2 separate regions of the Homo sapiens genome follow, and region 1 is linked to region 2. The links come from fine-mapping of genetic effects on gene expression. A gene starts in region 2. The other region holds a variant in brackets. All regions are shown on one strand. Distances are between the middles of the regions.

The links. PIP is the estimated chance that this variant, and not a neighbour inherited with it, causes the effect.
Region 1: its variant is fine-mapped to the expression of RBMS1 in monocytes after LPS (Fairfax 2014, PIP 0.95). The same link has a PIP of 0.9 or more in B cells.

Annotation. Positions count from the first base shown.
Region 1 is chr2:160,268,703-160,277,042 of GRCh38, reverse strand. RBMS1 (RNA binding motif single stranded interacting protein 1) reads left to right here. Exons shown (of 14, transcript NM_016836.4): 13 at 1,329-1,413; 14 at 2,279-4,892. The coding sequence ends at 1,406. LINC02478 (long intergenic non-protein coding RNA 2478) reads left to right here and starts at 5,148. Exons shown (of 2, transcript NR_103775.1): 1 at 5,148-5,323. RefSeq lists an enhancer at 6,331-6,940. The variant G/AG (reference allele first, on the strand shown) is at 3,274.
Region 2 is chr2:160,490,065-160,498,404 of GRCh38, reverse strand. It overlaps RBMS1 (RNA binding motif single stranded interacting protein 1), which reads left to right and starts at 4,598. Exons shown (of 14, transcript NM_016836.4): 1 at 4,598-5,116. The coding sequence starts at 5,042. RefSeq lists a silencer at 4,171-4,350 and an enhancer at 4,537-5,057.

The sequences.
Region 1 (8,340 bases), 220 kb after region 2:
GGCCAGACATGGTGACATGGACCTGTAGTCCCAGCTACTCAGGAGTATGAGGCAGGAAGAACCCTTGAGCCCTGGAGTTTGCAACTACAGTGAGCTATGATCATGACAAATTAGGGTAACAACATCCAGGCCACACCTCTTAAGACTCCCAGAAATATTTTCTAAGCCTATAGTGCCTTTCATACCCCTCGGACGTTCTGTCTTGTCTCTCATAAAATGATACTACAGACATAATAAGATAAATCTGGAGTTTGCAGTCCCAGTACTAAAGATCGTATCAATGATAATTAATAATGACGAAAAGAAATCAGTTGTAGTTAAGATACTTAGTGGAAAAGAGAAAGCTGTTTTGAAACTGCTACAGGGATGAAGAAGAAGCTATAGCTGTTTTTACAGAGGCTGTTAGTATGGCTAGATAACTGTTCTTGTTATGGAAGATACTGATATGAAAGAAAGAAGTCTAGCATTTGAATTATGGTTAGAGAGAAAACGTGGCATTTTCCTGCAAAGTATCCTTAAAATTTCAAGGAAATGTATCAATCCAGTTGATCTTGCCCACTAGGCAGATCCCAAAGGTTCCAATTCCAGGAAAGGATCATAGGACTCTGGCCTGTTGGTGGAGGTGGTGGTGGTGGTGGTGATAGTAGTAGCAGTAGTAGTAGTAGTAGGTGTTGGTGGTGGTGGTGGTGGTGGTGGTGGTGGTAGTAGTATTTTACTTCTGTTTGTGCAATTACTGACAACCACAGTTACCAGAGCCTACAATTCCTTACCTGCAATCTGAAACCCAAAAAGAAATCTGAAAATAAAAATTATCTTTGTAACTACTTTAGCATAAAACCTGACCTATGGCAAAACTCAACCTGAATTGAGATGAGACAAAATCTTGATCCCACTTAACTGTGCTGCTTCATGGCTTCCAGTGTAGAACTATTAATATGTTTGCTTATGAGGTGCAGCCCTAGACCCTACTGGAGGCATTAAATGATATACAGCATATGCATACCACATTTCAGATTATAAAATCTGAAAATACTGAATTCCAAATCACATCTGTCCCCAGGGGATAAGAGGGTAAGAGATTTGTTTGATATGCTGTAGCTTGATAAGAATAGGAAAGTCATAAACATTTGGATGGGAGGTGCTTTGGGTCTGTTAGACATGCCAGCTGCTTAGGGAAATGATTAACCTTGAAAGCTCTACATGACGTGAAGAAATTTACTTTAAAGAGTAACTGTTTTTAAGGCACTGTTGGATTCAGTCAGGCCTAAGTAGCAGAGCTGAGGTTTTTTCACTAACATGTCTCATCCATTCTGCTTTGTTTGTTGTAGGAGGCAAGTGGTCAACAGCAGGTGGCTGTCGAGACGTCTAATGACCATTCTCCATATACCTTTCAACCTAATAAGTAACTGTGAGGTATGAGGGAAAGGTCTTCATAACTGGGGGGCTCAAATCAAGCACAATCTATAGGGCTTTTTTTAAAATCAGAATGGTGATTGGGATAACTCGGATTTTATCATACTGCTTTAATCGTGGCCAAGGCATCTAGTCTTGTTGAAATATTAAAATCAGTGATTTTATGAATTTAAGATTAATCATTTTGTCTAAAGAGAATGCTTTATACTGAAGCCAAATGTATACTCTCCCCACTAAAAAGAAAAAAATAAAAATCTGTAACATCAGAGAACACCAAGAACCAAAATTGTTCTATAATACAAGTATCCTATATCATATTACTTTAATACTCAGAAACTGGAGGACCTATAGCATAAGATGTTGCTCAATCTAGCATTACAAGTTTAGCAACATCTTGATTATGAATTTAGATAAATGTCAATATCCTTAGATTGAAAGATTATATTCCCAACTCTCACTTGAACCACAAATTTCAAAACTTTTCACTTTACCATGCAGACTGTAATAAAATAGCTGTGTAGAACTTAGAATACCCTGGTTTCTGCATTGCCCTGGTGATATAGAATACCTTGGTTTCTGGATTGCCCTGGTGATAACATGTATTTTTGATTTCATAAAGTCACTCTTTAGAGACCCAAATGAATTTGGCTCTAAATTAGAAAAGAAAGTATTTTGCAAGTCCTGGATGTGACAGGCATTGAAAGTAACCATCAGTTCCAGAGTCTGCATTTATCAGTCTACCATCAGTGATGAGCATAACCTTTTTCAAACACATATCTCTTTAAAACAAGAAACAGATTACAAAGCTCTGTAGTGTTTCACACCAAATCTACAAAAGCATTTGTCTTTTATTTTTCTCTTCCAGATGTACAGAAAGGTGTTCTTACATGAAGAAGGGTGTGAAGGCTGAACAATCATGGATTTTTCTGATCAATTGTGCTTTAGGAAATTATTGACAGTTTTGCACAGGTTCTTGAAAACGTTATTTATAATGAAATCAACTAAAACTATTTTTGCTATAAGTTCTATAAGGTGCATAAAACCCTTAAATTCATCTAGTAGCTGTTCCCCCGAACAGGTTTATTTTAGTAAAAAAAAAAAAACAAAAAACAAAAACAAAAGATTTTTATCAAATGTTATGATGCAAAAAAAGAAAAAGAAAAAAAAAAAGAAAAGAAAACTTCAATTTTCTGGGTATGCACAAAGACCATGAAGACTTATCCAAGTGCATGACCGGATTTTTGTGGTTTTGTTCATTTTGTGTTTAATTTGTGTTTTTTTTTTCCAGCTGTATGAAATGGGCTTTCTGAAGTTTAAATAGTCCGACTTCACCCATGGTGTTCTGTGCTTGCAGTGCGAGTGTTGCTGTAATTCAGTGTTGCCGTCAGTGTCTCTTTTCTTAGCTTTCTGTCTTTCTTTCAACGTAGTGTGAAGTGTCTTATCCTTTTCTATGAATTCCAATTTGCCTTAACTCTTTTGATGCTGTAGCTGTTTCAGTAAAAGTTAGTTCAAACTAATGATGTAGAATGCTTTGACCAAATGAGCTGGTCTATTATGCCTTGTAAAACAGCAGCATAGGGCTTTTAAAAGGTAGTCAATAAAAGTTGCTGAAATTTTGGCTTTTTTAAATATGTAGTAGGTGTTTTTAATGATTTTTCACATAATGTGTAAGGTAGTGAAATGCAAGAAGGGAAAAATGTTTTGTGTGAAACACATTTTCTGACTGGGGAACTTTTATTAGGGTAAATTGTTTGTAAGGCTGTACGCCAACAGTTTCCTCTGATAGTTTGACTGATTTAGGATATCTGCTGTATGATGCAATGTAAAGTCTTTTTTGCCTTTTTTCAGGAAAAAAAAAAA[G/AG]CTAACTTGATGTACTAGATTTAGTGTAGGTAGTGTTGGGGTTGGGGATGGGGGTGGGGGAGGGGAGTCACTGAATGTTTTGTCCTTCCTTTATACTAATGATAGTGCTTTAGAATGAGAATTATGCCTGAAATCTGGCAAACCGAAAAATGTTGCTATTGCAACAAAGTGGCAAAAGCTAAAAGTAAGGATTTATCTTCAAACATAAGCTGAGATAACGAATAGAAGCAAAACGATTGGCTACTAGCTCTCTCTCTCTCTCTCTATTAGGTAAATTTGAAAAATAAAAATGACTTGGCACTTTTAAAGGTAACTTCACCAAAGACCGAAGAGCCAGTAACCAGTAGCTCCAACTTGTCTCAGCATCACATCTTCTGTGCTCTTTATTTTTGCCGGACCAGTTTGCGGTTAGGAGAATGTGCCTTTTTTGTACCTTTGCATTTAGGTTTTATAATTTTAATTGATGTATGGACACACACAAACAAAAAAGCATGAAGGAAGATTTGGATCCAAGCAGTGCCACACTTTACATCATCACTACAAGTGTTCAAGTGTAAAGAAAACCAATTTTGAAACTATGAAATTCCTGATTCATAAATACACAGTTATTTCTACTTTAGTACATATAAGATAATTCACTGTTATTAAAGCTCTTTTATTAAGGCAATTGCATATGTTTTAAAAGCAATGGTAAATTAAGTTGTCTTCCAAAACTGTGTACTTGTCTGGTCAGCTGTGTATGATCAGTTATCTACCTCAGAGTCTATTTTCTTTTGTGCTGGGACAGGTTGCTGGCCCTCCCTGTTTCCACAGACCAAATCCTCCTAGCTCAGGAGCTAGGGCTAAGCAGTTATTTCTTTCAAGTATTTTTTAGTTCTTAAATTTTATGCTTGTATTTGATGATAGATGTCAGTGACATTTCATAGTTTCAAAAGTCCTTGCTGCTCTGAGAAGTGTAGATTCTAGTGAAAATTACATAGTCATAAGAGAAATGTGTTTTTGTTTTTGTTTTTGTTTCATTTTTTTAAAGTTGTGGTATTATTGGTTCTATGCTCCCTGGAATATTACTGCTTTGTGAAAGTCCAGACTGAACGCAGCACCCTCTGTGTACCTAGTACAGTTATAAACCTGGGTCTCTCACTACTTGATATTTTTGCATTAGTTAAGACAGAAATTTGATAGCTCGGTTAGAGGGGAGGGGAAATCTGCTGCTAGAAATGTCTGAACTAAGTGCCATACTCGTCTGGGTAAGATTTGGGAAACATAACCTCTGTACATAAAAAAAAAAAAATCAGTTAAACATCACATAGTAGACAGCCATTAAATTATAAAAAAATTAATTTATGAAGAAAGACCTTTTGTACAGATTGAAAAAAAAAGATTTTCATAGAGATATCTATATGATCAAGAGAGTTAATTTTTTATTTTTGTTTTACTAGTGCCACAGACTTGCCAGTGGTAACTTATTTGTCCGGTTCAAGATAACTCTGTAGTTTTCTTTCCTAGGACTTGTTGTTAAACGCCAAAAGACATTTTTGAACTGTACATTTGATCAGATTGTTAGCTTTTCTGTTTTATTTCTTTTGAGAACCTTTGAATAAAAAACATCTGAAATTTTATTTTTCCTGTCAATTTTTTTTAAGTCGATTAAGTGTATATCAGAATTTCATTTCATTTCTGATCTCTTTCTTCAGCTCAGTAGATTGGTTTGAAAGTGAGTTGAAAGTTATGTCAGATTCAATATATCCTCAAAATACATTTCCTTGAAAACAATTGGAAAAACCTTTCCACCCCACTTTTGCTGGTTATTTAAATCTGTGTAATGACCAGAGACGTCAACCCTCAGCTCAGCACGTCAACCGTCAGCTCAGCACGTCAACGGTCGGCTCAGCAAATATCCAGCCCAAAATACACCACTAGTGGTCTGTTCTTAAAGACCAAAAAACCAGGCCCTTTTTCTTCCTCCTTTCTTGCTGCTACGCCTCAACTATTTCATTGCTTGTCAATGCTCAGCAAGGAAGACAGCCTAACAGCAGCCCTCCCACCTGTGGTAAGGAAGCATGTGGGCGAGAACCTCGGGATAATCTTATCTATGCGTTTATGACCAAGGTCCTCTTTCAGAGCTACCTGTTCAGCTGTTCCCGACTGGAGGCTCCCGTGCAGCATTCACGGAGGAGCGAGAACTCCTCTTTCCCTCACTTGACTGCTTTATAGGAGGCACTTAATATGCAAAATAGGCTCCTTCTGCCCAAAGTGGAGTAAACGTTTTAGTGTGGTGGTTCAGTATTTATTTCCTGGTGTCCAGTGGCTCTGTCATGGTGATAAAAAGAGTGGGCAAGGAAAAGATGCAGTCCGCTCCATTTCTGGCTGCGTCCCCTGCCATGTGGATGGTGTGCGGGGTGAGTTAGATAAGGGAGGGGTCAGAGCACTTAACTTGCCGGAGCCAAGAAATCGCTGGTACTTGATGGCTGTTTCAGAGAAGGAAACAACATTCCTCTGATGCTAACTGGTGCTTCTGAGAGCAAAATGTCAGGGAGGAGAGAAGCATGGCCTCTCGAGACAAACCCAGGCTGCTAAGAATGTAAGCTCTGGTCTCACTTTGCGTTCCAGCCAAACACCTAAGTGCTCCTTTCTATGACCAAAGGTAAGAAAGAAATGCAATTCAGGCTCCTGGGCACCTTCGTTTTTGTTCACCCTATTTTTGTTGTAGCTTCTCGCCGCTGAAGTCCGCGGCCCTCTATCTGGCTGTGTTATGTACTGAAACCGGTAAACATACTCAGGAGCACCAATCCACGGAAAAGGGAGGATCAAGCCAGCGATGGTGGTTCACAGTTACCGCTCCCATATAACTAGAGGGGTTGTGGCATGTTTGGGGATAAACCCCACCTAGCTGAAAGCTCTGAGACTGAAGTGGAATTCTGGGGTTGGAGGAGAGGAAAGAGGGTGTGGCCGTTGCTCTGTGGTCTACGTATTTTCCCCTCTATAGTGGCTGGAATGAGGAAAGCCAGGGAGTGGAGGCGGGAGTCCCGTTTTTCACCCCACTGCCACACCCTTCATGGCCAGTGGCTCTAGGTTTATCCGCTGGAGCTTAAATCCCACAAATACTGATTTAAAATTCACTAGGAGAAAGGCAGTGCCTCCCAGCCTGAGCCGGGGCTCAATGAATGTTAAGATATGACTGATTATATCCTCATTCCATTAGGGTAGCCAAAAAGGAAAAGAGCCAGCGCCATTGGGACAAAGGTCACCGACCTCTCAATCGCCCTGCCCCTTCCACAAAAAGCCTGAGATGTCAAGTAGGTGGGGGAGGGAGGAGAGCCGGGAGCTCAGGATTTGAGGAAGGCCAGGCAGTCTCTGCCCCTCGAATAGCAACGCGATGAGCTCAGCCCCCTCAGTCCAGGCCGAGAGCCAGATGGGGGTCACGTGGCCGCGGGGCCCCCCGGGCGCAGGGTCCTCGGCACAGCTGACGGGTGCGCGCCGAGCTCCGCCGGGCGAAGGAATTCCAGCCCCGCAAAATGGCTCCAGAGTGTCTCCCGTGACTCGCTCGGTGGCTGCGGAAGGCAAGAGGGTGTGTGCGCTTGAGCCGCTAGAGGGAGGGTGTTTTGTTCCTCAGCCGTCAGACGCGAGCTCTGCAGGCCGAAAACCCAGACCCGCTGCAGCCGACATCGGGAAGCCCCTGGGCGGAGGTTTAGCCTGTCGGGGCACACAGGCCTGGGTCACAGGGGTCTTGAATTTGGGGTTCCTCGTAAGACTGGAGCGCAGGCCGTCGCCTGTGCTGGCAGCGCCCTCATTGTGAGCGTTGTTGGTCAGACTGGGGAGTGACTGAAATGTGACTTTGAAGGTTCAGGGCAGCTGGGGGCGGCTAGGGAGGAAACCGCGCGCCTTGCCAGACCACGTGACTCGGCGCGAGAAAGCGATGGCAGGTCTCTGGGCTGCTCAGAATTGAAAACGTGGCTTTGAATTAAAGAATTCGGTTGTTTTATGCGACTCTGAGAGACTTAAGATTTGATGTAGGCTATTCCAGTGCTCACACAGGACCCAGACCATAAACCAGACTGCAGGGATTTCCTATCCTCTAGTATCCTTGAAGCCACCTGCCCTACTTGAACACCTCCAGGGACCAGGCACTGCCTGCCTCACAGGGCATCAGGTAGCTTTAGGGAACAGCTCTCAAACTTGTTTGCAGAGGAGTCCAAATTGTGGCTTTGAAATTCCCACTTACCGGCCTTAGTGCTGCCAACCGGGATGCCACAGAGTCAGTCAGTCATACTTCAAGTGTGGAAACGTGACTCCATGGCTCTGCTCTTCTCTGGGTTGAGCATTCCTTCCAGCTTTAACTCTTCCTCGTCAGCCCTGGTCACTCCACATCATCAACTCACCTTCCAGATGTACCACAGTTGACTCAGGATAAAACCCAAAACCGGAGGAAGAACTTGGGACTTCACCTGTCTCCCCTGCCCTGCCGGTTCCTTTTTGACTTCTCAGACATACCACAATTCTTAGAACTTGTAGCCAGTGAAAATCCCTATGTTGCTTTATTTTTTAAATGACAGTAGTTACGCTAAAGACATGCAAGATAATATGAAGTCATTTTAAAATGAGGACATTTTAATGACATGGAAAATGCTTAGGATATAACGTGAATAAAAAGTGTTAGGAACAGACCTGTAGATACAGTATGATCAAAACTATGAAATAAGTATAAAACCCAAGGAGAGGCTGGGCACAGTGGCTTATGCCTGTAATCTCAACACTGGGAACCAAGGCCAGGGGATTGATTGAGGCCACGAGTTTGAGACCAGCCTGGGCAATATAGCAAGAGTCATCTCTACAAGAAAATTTTAAAAATTAGCCTGGCATGATGGCACACACTTGTAGTCCTAGCCACTTGGGAGGCTCAGACAGGATTGCTTGAGCCCAGGAGTTTGAGGTTGCAGTGGCTGTTATGTTCACGCCACTACACTGTAGCCTGTGTGACAGAGAGATACACTGTCTTAAAAATAAATAACAAGGAGAAAGTACTTCAAAATGCTTATCAAGTGGGAGGATTATAGAAAGTTTGTATTT
Region 2 (8,340 bases):
AAAGCACTTAATGGGTCATGCTTTCCTAGGTCATCTTGGCACAAAGTTTTATTAAGATTCCTTCATGAGCTCCTTCCCACAAAAGTGCTAAACATGTAGTACATATTTTTAGAAAATTTGTCATTATTTAAAATTTTTAAGGCAAGCTGACTTTTTTTTTTTTTTAAAGAGAAATGGCTGATAGCTGACTCAGATCTGGGTATGAACCGTATAAGAACCTGGGACAATCTTATCATGCTAAAAAGCCAAAAGAAAAAAAAAAAAACTGTCAAGACTATTAGAGTCTGTTTTTTTTTTTTTCACATGAGGCAATTTGAAGGGGCTCCTATTGCCCAAAAATGGGACAATTTGAGCACCAACAAGAATAATGACTGCAATGGGTTGAAGCAATTCAAATACAGTACATTAAAATCCACAAATCCAGAATCTTACTTAAAACTAGTTAGCTTTGGAGTTTCCTAGGGCACCAACTCATTCTCCTAAAAATTGATAAATAGGAGAAATTTATCCTACCTTTCCTTTGCTACCTGTATTTTAAGTTAACCAAAGAGTTGAAGACAGAAAGTTCTTCTCCGTAGACAATTTCTAACTAGTAAGTGCAGAAGAAATTATAAAAGGAGAAAAACCACAATTTGTAACTCCTAATTTAAAAAAAAATGGATTGAGGTAAAACTCATGAATGTAGAAAAACATCCTGTGAATGGTTGATGGGGAACTTTATAATGAACAAGTCAGACTGATAATGCCTGAACTTCTGATCAACTTAACATCCCTAAAAATGAGACAACCAGACATTATGGTTTTCTGATGGGATACACATCACATCACATTCCCTATGTGTGTTCAGTACCATCTAGGAACTATTCTTTGTCAAAAAAATGTGAATCTGCATCTAATCAAACCTCTAGAACTAACCATCATTGCAAATGACACCATGAGGTTGCAATCAGCCATGCGGGAAATTCTGCAGGACAAATGACCCAAATCCTTTAACAAGTAAATATCAAATTTAAAAATGAATGGGGACAAACTTTTTTATTAAGAGAGTCTTAAGAGACATATCAACCAAATTTAATATGTGGACATTGTTTTAACCTGATTTAAATAGACAAACTACAAAAAACGATTTTTAGACAACAGTGGAAAATGAACAAGAATTGGGTATTAGCTCACATTAACAAATTATTGTTAAATTTTTTGGGTGTGACAATGGTATTATGTTTTAAAAAGTTATTTGTTAGAGGAAGGTAGTAGAATAGTTACTGGTGAAATATGATGCTTGGGATTTGCTTTGAAATACTCTAGAAAAATAAAAGTAAGTGTGTGTGTGTGTTTGTGTGTGTGTGAGACAGAGAAAGAGAGAAGAGGGAAGAAAAAAGAATGACAAAATGTTGATGAATGTTGAAGCTGGATGTTAGGAACAGAGGGTTCCTCTGCTTTTGTATTTGTTTGAAAATGATCATGCTTAAAATTAAAAGCTGATTTTGTTTTAAAATGTTTTCACATGAAATACAGCAAAAATACAAAAGAACTTATGAACATTAAAACAAAAGTATTGAAATGTAGTCTCATGTTATCAATAACCCAGAGCAAAACATCCAACATTACTATTTCTAGAGGTCTCCTTCGGCCCCTCCTTAAATACTTCATCCTTCTTCTTCCTAAGAGATACTGTTTTGAATTTTATGTTATTTTACTTTTGATTTTCCTTATAAAAGTTTTTAAAAACTACTCTTGCACCTATTCTTACATAACATACTGTTTAGTTATTTTTTCTGTTTTTGAACTTCATACAAATGGAATCATGCTTTATGCATTCTGTTGACTTGCCTTTTTCATTCAACATCAGTTTTGAAATGATCCATGTTGATGCTTTTAACTGCAGCTTATTCATTTCTGTTTCTGCAACGACTCCAATGTGTGCATATACTAAAACCTTTTTAATCCACTCTACAGTTGGTAGACATTTGAGTTATTTTCTGCATATTATGAACATTCCTGTATATTTCTCCTGGTGCACATATAAAATAATTTATTTAAGGTACGTACCTGTTACTGTGTTGTAGGAAACATGCAAATGAAATTCAGGAATGCCAAATTGTTTTCTAAAGTGGTGGTTAGACCAATTTATACTTCCTCCAGGAAGCAGTGTTTTCAGATTTCCCCCCTTCCACATTTTTACCTACTCTTAATATTTTTAGAGTTCTTAATTTTTGCAAATCCGGTGAATATGAAATGGTATAGTAGTATTATTTTAATTTGCATTTCTCTTATTACTAATGAACTTGAGCATCTTTTTATATGTTTTCTGAATATTTGTGCTTCTGTGAAATACACATTCATTCTTTTGTTCATATTCTAACAAGTTCTCTTTTTTTATTGATTATTTATACATTCTGTATACTAACCTTTTGTGTTATATGTATTACAGGTATTTAGTGGCTTTTATCGCTTTTTATAAAATCCTTCAATGAACCAGTGTTCTTAATGTTAACAGTCAAATCTGTCAATCTTACACTGTTGTTCCCCTTATTTAACCAATCTTTCCTATTTCAGGGTCAAAAAGGTATTCTTCTATATTGTCTTCTAACAGCTTTATACTTTTGTTTTTCACATCCAGGTCATGATTCACCTCAATTTTCCACCCTCCTCCCTTGGTATGTGTGAGGCAGGGCTCCCATTTCATTTTTTCCATATGATTGCCAGTTGACCCAGAATCATTTATTGAAAAGTTCATTCTTTCTCCACTGCGCTATAATACCAACTCAGTCATAAATCAAGTGTCTATACAAGTGTAGGTCTGCTTTTGGGCTCTCTAAAACAGGCTGAATTTCCATCATCCAGAAAAAACAGTAAGTAGAACAGTCTAAGTTTGGTAGTTTCCCTTATTACCTCAAACCTAGAACTTCTGCGATTGTTCTCGATTTACTTCTCTTCCTTCTGTCACTCTTCCAAACCATCATTCCTAGTCTTCCTAAAGCACAATTTAGTTCATGTCAGTTCCCTGTTTAAAAACATTAAAAGGCCCCACATTGAAACAATATGGGAAATATTTTAGGCTCCCCTAGTCTGACAGTGACCCATTCCACTTTTCAGGTCTGCATGCACCTCAACAGTGCCTACAATATAGCAGACATAGTAAATATTAGCTTCCTTATAGGCTTTTACATAGGTAAATGAGAGGGACATGATTTGCCTCCTGGCAGAGCCAAAATGTTCTCACCTATACTTATATTTATTTTGTTTTTGTCAAACATGTAAGATCTAGAAATTTGTCTAAACCATAGAACGATTATAAGGGTTTCAGGTCCTTATTTTGTCATTGTTTTAAAGTATCTTACTAAACCTATTTTAAAATGTTATCATATAAAAATAATAACTGTTTAACAAAATAATGCATTCCAGTTGAGTTTAATTTACCTTGTGCTATTAACAAAAGACTCTTCAAAAACCAAAATGACAAAGTAAACAAGGTCTATTTAATAACAAACACAGTTTTTTATTACATTTTATTAGATGTGCCGGAACCCTAATTTGAGGATGCTTGCTTACCTATGCTATCCGTATGTACATTTTGGTATTAGCTCTCTTTTTGAGCTGGAATATAAAAGTCTTCTGCAGGCAGCTTCGGGGACCAATTAATTCCATTAAATTATATCTAGTTATGTAGTGAACTGAACCACTGCTGGTCTGAGGCTGTCTAGAGCTGTGACAATTAGGAGATGGAGAGAGGCAGAAAGAGAGATTGATTTTATATGTCACTGAAGCACACTGCAACAATATGCCAGCGTGACTTTCAAAATGGCCTTAAAATATTCCAAACTCAGGGAGTTTCCTTGCTCCTGAGTGGGAGTTGACAGACTGTCTGGCAGCATTAGAAAGAGGCAGAGAAAAGCTGATGTCTATATTGTGTCCTCTAATAACATTCTGCCTCTTTGCGGCATCCCCCTCTTAGAAGGATCCGTCTATATGTTGTGAGGGGTGTGTGTGTGTGTGTGTGTGTGTGTGTATGTATGTATGTGCTTTGCCTCCCCTTGTGCAAGGGGCATGATTTCACGTCTCACATCTGGGAAAACCAAACCGAAGGACGCTAACCCTCCCAAGGTCACCTAGATTAGTCTTGTGGCCCCGGGTCGGGGGTGGGTGGGAGGAACAGAACCCAGGTGTCCAGACTCCAGCTTTGTTGGGCATTAAATCATTTTCCTTCCCTTGTGAAAAAAAATTACTGGGCGGTGGGAAGTGAACGATTAATCAGATTTCCTCTTTTCCCTTATTTCCCCTCCCCCTTACGAAGATAAAAACTCGGGAAAGCAAAAGAGGTGCCCGCCCTGCAGTTCTTAAGCTGGGTCCCCCCGCATTCCCCCTCCACCCCCACTCCCACTCCCATTTCCCCACCCCCGACACAAAGCGATCTGGACTCACAGGGCTTCCGCCCGTCCAACCGCGAGCCTGGGAGGTGAGGAGTGGTTAAAACTCAGCCCTCACCTCCAGCGGGTCCCGGGCTCGGCGGCGCCCAGGCCCCGCCCCCGCCCGCCCTTCCCCCACGGCCTCGGAACGCCAGCCCCTCTCCTCTCTCCACATCGGGCGCACCCACCCCAGATGCCGCCTGGCACCAAGCGCAGCCGCCGCTGCCGCACTTTCCACTTGTATTGATCACCTCTCAGCCCCGCGCAGCCGGCTCGCCCGAGCGGACCGCGGCCAGCGCGCCAGCCCTTGGCAGCCCCGGAGCAGTCGGGCTCCGGGAGGAAACTCCTTGGGAGCGCCCTGTCCGGGGTGCCCTCTGCGCTCTGCAGTGTCTTTCTTTCTGCCTGGGAGGAGGAGGAGGAGGAGGAAGAGGAGGAGGAGGAGGAGGAGGAGGAGGAAGAGGAGGAGGAGGAGGAGGACGTCTGGTCCCGGCTGGGAGGTGGAGCAGCGGCAGCAGCAGCAGCCGCCGCCGCCGCCGCCGCTGCCGCCGCCGCCGGAAAGGGAGAGGCAGGAGAGCCCGAGACTTGGAAACCCCAAAGTGTCCGCGACCCTGCACGGCAGGCTCCCTTCCAGCTTCATGGGCAAAGTGTGGAAACAGCAGATGTACCCTCAGTACGCCACCTACTATTACCCCCAGTATCTGCAAGCCAAGGTAAAGGGGCGCCGGGGAGAGGTGACGGCCGGAGGAGGGGGCCCGGGGACGCGCGCAGGGTCAGGCCTGGGGAGGGGGGCGCGCGGCGAACCCCCGCCACCGCCGGGCGGAGTTGCTGGAAGGTTGCTAACTATAGCGCTGGCCTGGGCAGAGCCGGGCGGCGCGCGGGGCGGCGGCTTCCCTGGGAGCGGAGTGCGGGGATCGGGTTACAGAAAGCCGCGGGGGGAGAGACTAGACAGGAAAGAGCCACCAGCCCCTTCCTGGCCCGGCCAGCGGGGAGGGTCGTGGGGTCGAGCGGCGCCCCTCGCCGAGCCCTGGCTGGCCGGCGGCCGTCGCCTGGTGTGCGCGTCTGGATCCGCTGGTGGCCCGGCTTTTCGACCCCTTCTCCAAGGGCCTCGCCCTGTAAGCTGTAACTCTTCGCTCCCCTCGCCGTGGCGCGGAGCCTCCCGCCCCCCAGGGACGCCCCTCCACCTCCCGCGCACGCGATGACTGGGGCTGGAGGGGCGGCGGGGCCGGGATATTTTCCTCCCCGCCTCCGGCCCTGAGCGCCCGCCCCTCGCCTCTGATCTTTGTGCGGTGTGGCACTTCACCTGGTTACTGATTTCTACTTTTACGCTGGTGTTTTGGGTAGAAAAGTGGCCAAAGTTCACTCGCGTTCATTGATGTCCCTTCTAATCTCTAGAGGTTTTGCAAAGGAGGGACAATGGGCAGATTTCAGTGCAGAGAAAGAAGTGACTTCGTATTTGGTTAAAAAAGAAACAAAAACAAAACTAGCTTATATGTTTGCCACAGATCGATTTCCAATGTTGCTTTTTAAAAAGTGACCTCGGCACACTCTTGGGTAACAACAGTTGATGACATGTAGCCATACAAATTGCGCCTGGCTTTCTAGGGACCCTGGGTACTTTGTTAGTGGGCCTATCTTATTTTTACAATAAGAATTTGATGCCTCCCGAACTCATTTAAAAAAATTATTTGGGCCATGAAGACTGGAAATTTCACTGCTTTGGAAGCAGCCGCCAGAATTTGGGAGGGTGGAAGTTGGACGCAGCAGCCTTCTTCAGCCATTAACATCTATCACAACTCTGGGTGCCCTTCTAGATCACAAAAGAATCAGGTATGGATGCAGTGTCCGAACTTTCTTTGGGAGGTTGTAATCATGCTCTGCTTGCTGGTAGTTGGGCATTTCCGGCCTGGTACAAAGAATCTCTGATTCAGCCTTTTCTTTCTTAGAATGTGTGTGGTCCACGTTTTCATGTACTTACGACATAGCCCTGTATTTGTCTACGTAAAAAGGACACTTGTCAGTTTCGAGACCAGAAATGTCCTAGCAATCCCGGGCCTCATTTTCACTTCCCCCAATTCCCACTTTACTTTGGGTCACCAGAAAGCAGCAAGATGGTAGCAGCAAGGATACCCCTTATTCATCTCTGTGTAGTTCTCACAGTATTTGTTTTAGGAACTTGCAGGAGATGCTAGTTTTCTGTGAGCTACATGGTAGCTGTTCAAAGAAATTTTGTGGCATAATCAATGCACTACCTTTTAGATATCTTATATATTTAATGCACTTGTTTAAATTATGCAGCATTGGGTGCCTAAAGGACAGCTTATTCAACACTTAACAATATGAATAATAAATACACCCACTCAGGTGAGGAAGAAAAAAAGCCATGTTTCTACAGGCACATTTACCTTAGTAATTTTTATATACCATTAGTAAGTTAGAAACCAAGTCCATACCATTTAATGTAGCTAATGCAATGCCATTTGGCTTTTTTGCCCTGTAAATAATTGAAGAGAGAGACAAACGGCAAGAGCCTGCTCTAGTAATTAGGGTCGGATCCCAGAAAGCTTTACGGCCCATTTTCTGAAAGTGTGCTTCCTGCATAAAGCATTTAATATTGATTTGTGTTGCGGTAAATGACATTCTCAAAACATTTTGCTAATTCTACAATTAAATCTGAAATCCTATTATTCGGAATTCCTTTGTTTCTGGAGAAAGGTATACATACTCACTTGACCTATATAACATGGTATTAAAGTTTGGTAATTAAGTCTAAATTCCCTGTTGTACAAGTATCTTGATTATCTCAGAAGGGGACATCTTCTAAAAATGGCACGTGACTAGATGCAAATTTTAGGTAAGCAGAGTTCGGAACAGGCAGCCCTTTTTTTTTTCTCTCCCTTATGTATCTGTTGGTAGCATGGTAGTAATGTTGAATCATTTAAAAAAAAAAAGACTTTGATTTGTAGTTAGTTTAAAAACAAGTGTTGCCTAATCTACCTAAAGAGTTAATAAACTCTCTTAGGATCTGCTGTCTGTCATGATTCTTGCCTCTGTGTGTGCTTTAACCTTCCGAAAATATGGGATAGAAAACATCACTCTGTTTAAAGTACAGTGATGTGTTTGCTAGGCAGAGTCATTTTGAAACTTCTGTTTGGAAGCTATATCAAAAACTGAAGAATGGCATGGTCATCTAAAAAGTGATAGCTAATTTGTACTCAAGAGATAGATGTGATTTTCTCAAATCTAATTCTTTTAATCAGAAGGAACAGATAATACCAGGTAAAATGGAACTTAACAGTTTGTTTTGTTACCATACTTTTAAAAGTTATATATGCCAAACCATTCTTCTTGTTTTAGTGATCCAGTCTATTTTGGTAAACTTATTTTGTAATTTTCCCCATAAAAACATACTAGTTACTTCCACATTTTATTAATAAAAAAATACCATCCGTTGGGCTATATTGGAGCAAATGACCATATTGGTATGCTTTGTACTTTGACAGAAAGAAAAAAAATCATTAGAAAAAGTAATATGTCTCCATGAAATGTAAAATAAACTTGAGTGTACTATGGAAGAGCAGGACATGAGTGGAAATGAATGAGATTGTATAATATTCATAATACCTTGGTGTAGAGTTACATAAATTTCAAGTAACCTGATTTCACATGCTGTTGGTTTTTTGTTTTTTTTTTTTATTTCTCAGTGAGGATGGTCTTATCACAGCAGGTTCTTTTTATCAGCTGACACATTCATTCTGAAATGTAGCTTGATGTAGCTTTATAAACATAACCACATATTGTCCTAAATAATTTTCTCAATTTTAAAATGACCTATGCTGTATTATATTAAATTTAATATCCATCTTTTAGCTACACAGAAAAAAGATGTTGATAATCTAACATATTTTAACTTAAAGATTTGTATGTACACATTTTC